Regions from separate parts of the Homo sapiens genome. Here region 1 is linked to region 2. Evidence: fine-mapped expression QTL. A gene starts in region 2. The other region holds a variant in brackets. All regions are shown on one strand. Distances are between the middles of the regions. Region 1 overlaps BMAL1 (basic helix-loop-helix ARNT like 1). Region 2 holds the start of BMAL1 (basic helix-loop-helix ARNT like 1).

Evidence for each region.
Region 1: its variant is fine-mapped to the expression of BMAL1 in monocytes after LPS (Fairfax 2014, PIP 0.95).

What each region holds. Positions count from the first base shown.
Region 1 is chr11:13,338,187-13,341,085 of GRCh38, forward strand. All of the region lies in intron 3 of BMAL1 (basic helix-loop-helix ARNT like 1), which reads left to right. Among named protein-coding and RNA genes, the nearest start is that of BMAL1, 62 kb to the left of the region's middle. RefSeq lists an enhancer at 78-247. The variant T/TACACACACACAC (reference allele first, on the strand shown) is at 1,244.
Region 2 is chr11:13,276,651-13,279,549 of GRCh38, forward strand. It overlaps BMAL1 (basic helix-loop-helix ARNT like 1), which reads left to right and starts at 1,140. Exons shown (of 20, transcript NM_001297719.2): 1 at 1,140-1,273. RefSeq lists silencers at 741-1,390, 1,461-1,530, 1,811-2,150.

The DNA.
Region 1 (2,899 bases), 62 kb after region 2:
GGTTTTTTTTTTAAATTCTTCTTGCCAGAAGGAGACAAATGAAGGAAAAAAAACAAGCCGATTTCATTTTCATTAAGAGGAATTTGTAGAGTTATTTCTGGGGTCAGGCAGGATACATTCAGACGAACATTTTAGATCTAGGGCTGGGAAGATCCCGAGACTCGTTATAGATTACATCATCTTCCTCCAAGTGCACTTGCCAGGCAAATGGACAAGTGCATTTTAGAAAGGTTTTCAGTTGTTCACGTTTAAACAGAAAGGATCACCTGGCTAACTTTTAGTTAACCCATTGAACAGATGTGCCATTCCCCCAGCCCATTGGTTATTCATGTCCTTGTTACTGGTTTTTGATATCCTTGCCCCGTAGGTGGGAGGAGGGATGGGTATGAGCCTGCCCTGCCCTCTTTCTCCTACTTGGGACAGAGCTGTTGCTTTTATTTGCTGAGTCACTGAAGCAATAGAGCATGTGCAGAGTCCCAGCCTGGAGGTGGGCATATCTGGGTTCCAGTCCCTGCTCTAGCCCTTCTCAGCTGTGTGATCTTGGACAAGTTGCCATACCTCTCTGAGCCTCAGTGTCATCTTCTATGTGATGTCGATGCCTCCCCCAAAAGGTCGTTACGAGGACCAAAGGAGACACGTCAGGGCAGGAACCATCCTAGGCACGTGTTTGATGCTCAGTAAACGGGACGTGGTCAGTGTTCAGAGTTGTGGGGGTGGCAGGTGACTGCTCTGTTTCACCTCCACTCACAGCAACAGGGCCTGTGGTGTCACCTAGACATCTCATAGGCATCCCACACTGAACATGTCCCAAACCAGCAGCTCCTCCCTGGATGGGTGGATGGTGTACAGGGACCTCTTCCTCCAGCTGTCACATGGGGCATGTACCTGGCAAGTGGCTTTGCAGCCCTAGCTGCCCCCTTGGCTGGGGGCCTTTGTGCAGTTCATGGACTGGGAGTCACCCCCATGTCTAGACCGTCAGGAAACCCATTGGCTTTTCCTTTAGAGCATACCAAGAATCAACTTCTCAGAACATAGCAAGAGTTGACTTTTTGTCACCCTGCCGTGGCCACTCAGACTGACTCCTCTTACACCTCACATCCCATTGATCAGCACAGCCCCTGGAAATATGTCTAGAATCCAGCTGCTTCTCATCACCCCCACACCTAATACAGAGGGCTGAGTCATAGCATCTCTTCCCCGGACTGTTGTAGCCGTCTCCTAACTCAGCTTCCTGCCCTGCTTT[T/TACACACACACAC]ACACACACACACACACACACACACACATGGTATCTTCTCACCACTGCAGCCAGACTTAAAACCTAAGAGGGATCATGTCACTCCCCATTTTACTCAGAGTCAAGGCCAAGATCCTTACTGGGGTCTGCAGGCCCCCACACCTGGCCCTCTGACTGCACCCCTACCTTCCTTAGCTGTCTCCTCTCCCTAGCATGCCCCAGGTCGCTGGTCCCCTAGCACTGGGCAGCTCCCTGCGGCCCTGTTCACTAGCTGTCCTCTGCCTGGAACACATCTGTCACCTCTCACCTCCTCCTGTCCAGCCTCCTTGGGGCCTTTCTAACTGCCTCCCTCCTGTGGTCTGCCTCCTCCCCATCTCTGACTTTCCTCCCGAGCACTTACTGCCATCCAGCACCCGACATAACTTACTTGTTTCGTTTGCTTGCCTTCCTCACCAGGAGGTGTGCCAGATGAGGACAAGGATTTTTATATCCCTACCCCCATCTGCAGCACTGCCATGGAGAACAGTGCCTGGCACTTGGATGCCCTCAGTAAATATTTGTTGAGAGACTAATAAGTGATCGTGGGCCAGCATGCCAACAGTGTCTTCGTTATTACAAAATTGTCCCGAATTGAAATTTGGCTACTACAAGCAGTTTGTGGTGGAAATTTACTCAAATTACCAATTCTTTCACTGAAGAAATTACCTGGCATATGTGGGTTCTCAATAAACTGTGTTGGATTGCCTCAAGGCTTTGGGGCAGTGGTAGCCGTCTGAGGCCTCCTTGCCAGTCAACCAAACCCTGTGCTGGGTGGGACATAAGAGATGCCCCCAGCATCCTTAGCTGATGCTACTATGTCACCCCAGAATCCCTGGGGCAGCCCACCCCTCAGCAGCAGCTGTCACCCTGCTGGGTTCCGCTTTTCCTCCTGTGGGCTTCGTCTCCCTAAGGAAATCATTGTCCTTGCTTTCTACATCTTATCTCCCTGAGCAGCTCCAAAATTCTGTTATTCATATCCCACTGACCTTTCTCATTGTCCTAGTCCAAGCTTCTCACAGGAGGAGTTGTCTCTCTGTTTTATATTAAAACAAAGCGGTTGGACTCTTAAAACTCTATTCACTTTTCAGATTCTTTGGAGTCCTCAATGCTTCCTGCTATGAAATGCTGCGCTCTGGAATGCCTTCCAGACCCACCCCCAGGATACCTGTAGCCTTCCCTGCAGCCACTCTCCTCAACTCCCTCCTCGTTCCCAGGGGTCAATGTCCTGGATCTCTCCAGCTTTAAGTTCCTTCATGTCCTCTTGCCACCCCTGCTCTCACCATCTCTGAGTTCTTGTATCCCCAGGATTTCAACCTGAGTTTGCATCTCCTGACATCACTTTTCCCAGCCTTCTCCCTTTTCAACCAGCACAAGGCCATCCACTTCCATGGCCATAGTGGACGCCACTGAGCATGCTAGGTGTTTTCTTCTATTCAACTCATGTGGTCTGCACAACAACCCAGTGCGGGGAATCCACCCCTTTCACAGATGAGGCATCTCTAGCTCCTGGAAGTCACCTAACTTGCCTAGGACATGCAGCTAGTAAGTGGCAGGGCTGGGATTGGAACCCAAGAGGCCCCGCCCTGACCACCATCCTGCCCTGCCTCTCCTCGGGCACCCAGAATCCCCTCACTCTAT
Region 2 (2,899 bases):
CACCCTACCCCAGCAGGCGCTAAAGGAGAGCTGACATGATGGATAACGAAAAAGAAGACGCTGTCCTTCTATTCAGGGAGTTTAACATCTGGAAGAGCCGGGAGTTCTTTGTGCTAAAGGCCCTCTACAAAGTGCCTGAGATGCAAAAATAAGTCACTTTCTCTGTCCTCTCAGCAACCGAGTCGCATGTCGTTATCAAATTTTTATTTTCTGTAACTGTTTCCTTCCGTCTTGCTCCGTAGACAGCTTTTTGCAGCAGAGAGCGCTGCCGCGGGGCTGGTGTCTACTCTTCAGTAAGTGGTCAAAACCTGGCTACTGGAAGGAAATGCAATGGAATCGCTCCGCGCTCGAGTATTCTCTTTGGAACTACGGGAATGACAGCTCCAGTGGGACACTTGGAGGTCATGATGAACGCAAAGAACGTGAGAACACTTGCAGTCCTCGGGGTGGAAATGCCTTCTAGAAATACTAAGTATCCGTTCTCTCGTTGAGACTTTGGCAAACCAGGGATTTTAGGAAGGGTCTGGCACTCAACGTTCCTAAAATTGGTTTCCTAGATGGAGCCGGAGGGAGAGAGGGAGTCAGGAACTGCTGCTTTTCGTCGGAATGCCCGGAGGGGAGAAGAAGAAGGAGGAGGGGTGAGGGCGGGCGGCCAAACGCCAGCCGGCAGGGGACCCAGAGAAGAGGGACATCCCGGGCGACCCCGAGGAGCGCGGCTTGGGCACCGCAGTGGCCGCGGCTAGTGGGAGACCTGAGGGGAAAGGGAGAGGGCAGGGGCGAGGAACCCAGGGAGCGCGCGCGGATTGGTCCTCTCCTCGGGGCGTGCGCTCCTGTGCGCCAAATGATTGGTGGCAGGAAAGTAGCAGGTAAACCGGCTCCCGCCGCCTCGCCATTGGTCAGCGGCCTCTCTAGCCGCCACACAACTGGCCAGCGGGCTGCCGAGCCGCGCGCGGATTGGCTGGGGGCGGCCGCCGGGACCGGCTCCCTTCGGGCGTTCGGATTGGCTGGCGGGAAGAGGCAGGTATCCGGGCGCTGCGGCTCCTCCATTGGTGGGCGGGGAAGGGGGGTTGGGCACAGCGATTGGTGGGCGGGGGGCCGGGCCTGGGCCGGCGGGGAGCGGATTGGTCGGAAAGTAGGTTAGTGGTGCGACATTTAGGGAAGGCAGAAAGTAGGTCAGGGACGGAGGTGCCTGTTTACCCGCGCCGGACTCACCGCCGCCGCCGCCGCGGGATCCGAGTGCGGGCGCGGGCGCGGGCGCTCCCGGCGAGCCACGGTGAGTGTCAGGCCGGCGGCGGCCAGCGACGCGATCCCGCGCACCCCGTCGGGGGCCGTTAGCACCCTCGCGGGCGCTGCGCCCCTGCCGCCGCCCCGGGGGCAACCCGGCCGCCGAAGAACCCTGCCCGACGTGCCCGCTGCCGGCCTTAAAGGGCCCGTGACCGCTCCCTGCCCCCACCCGGGCCGTGGGGAGGCTGCGCCCCTTAAAGGCGCCGCGCCCGTCCGCCCCCATCCTCCTCGCGGGGGCTGCCGCTGCGGGCTAGGGCAGGCAGAGGTGCTGCAGGAGCCCTTAAAGGGGCCGGGAAAGTGTTCGCTGGAGTACCCACCGCCCTTCCGCGGGCATCGCTACCTGGCGGGGGGAGGGGGCAGCTAGCTGCCTCTTAAAGGGATAGCTCTGCCCTTGGGGGCAGTGACTCGGCCGAAGAGGACTCCTAGATGTGTCCCCGGGAGCTTCGGGGATCCCCGAGGGGACCATGCCTGGTGGCTGCCCCTCAAGGGCGTTGGGCGAACGGTGCCGCGTCTGCCCTTCCTCCCCGCTTCACTTCCCTTTCGGGAGCCCGCGAGGCTGGGTGGGGGCGGGGAGGGCGTCTCCGTCGGGCTTGGGGAGTCCAAGTCCGCCCGCCCCTTCGGCCCTGTAGCCAGGGCTGGCGCTGCACCCGGGAATCCCCGGCCGGCACGGGGCCGACCCCAGCCTGCGAACTTTCGTGGGGCCTGTGCCGTCCAGGTCCTGGGCGGCCCTCAAGGATGCCCCGTGGGTCTGCGGGCAGGTGCGCGTCGGCCTGGGGATGTCGCCCGGAGCCCGGGTGCGGGCCGGCCTTGGAGTCCCAGAGCTCCGCGGAGGGCGCAGCGAGCCTGGCTCCAGCTCCGGGTTTGACAGATGTCAGGGAAGAAAAGGTTCCCGCTCGGCTATTGCCGGGCGTTGACATCCCAGAGAGCTTCCCGTTTGCTTGGAAGAAGACGAGGAAGGTAGAGGTGAACGTCGACCTTGTGGGGCGCATGTTAGCCTCCCCGAGGGGTCGCGAGAGCCGGCAGCGGGGTGAGCTCAGGTGCCCGCCGGCAGGAGCTGGGGAGGGAAGGGGAGTGCTGGACACCGGCGCCTGCTGTCAAGTTCTCGCCGGCCGGTGAGAGACCCGCTGCCGCCGCGCACCCCGCACCTCCTGACCCCTCTCCCCTCTCCGCCTCGGCCCCTTCCCGGTCACCTAGCGTTGTTTTGGCGCTTTGGCGCTTGCGGTCTCTTCCTTCTTCCACCGCTACTCCTCAGCGAGGAATTATTAGCCAAGTTTTCTCACCCAGCTTCCAAAAATCAGATTCCGTATTTGTGAACAAGCTTTTCTTGACACTACCCGTATACCCGTATTTCCAGCATCGTCGTTTTATTAAACATCCATAAAAGCTGCCCCTTAGATGCATTCATTTCCCACGACACCTGCTTGCTTGTCATTTGTCCTTCTGACATCTGCTGTTGTTCACCCCTTTAATCTATTATTAAATGACAACTATTATTTTAATTCTTCTGGTCTCATTGATATCCGGATCTGTGAATTTGGGTTGGTGGAGTTTTTAATTAATGTACCCGTTGAATCATGAGCTTAAAATAATCATTGCTGCTCCTGAGCAGTTTTGA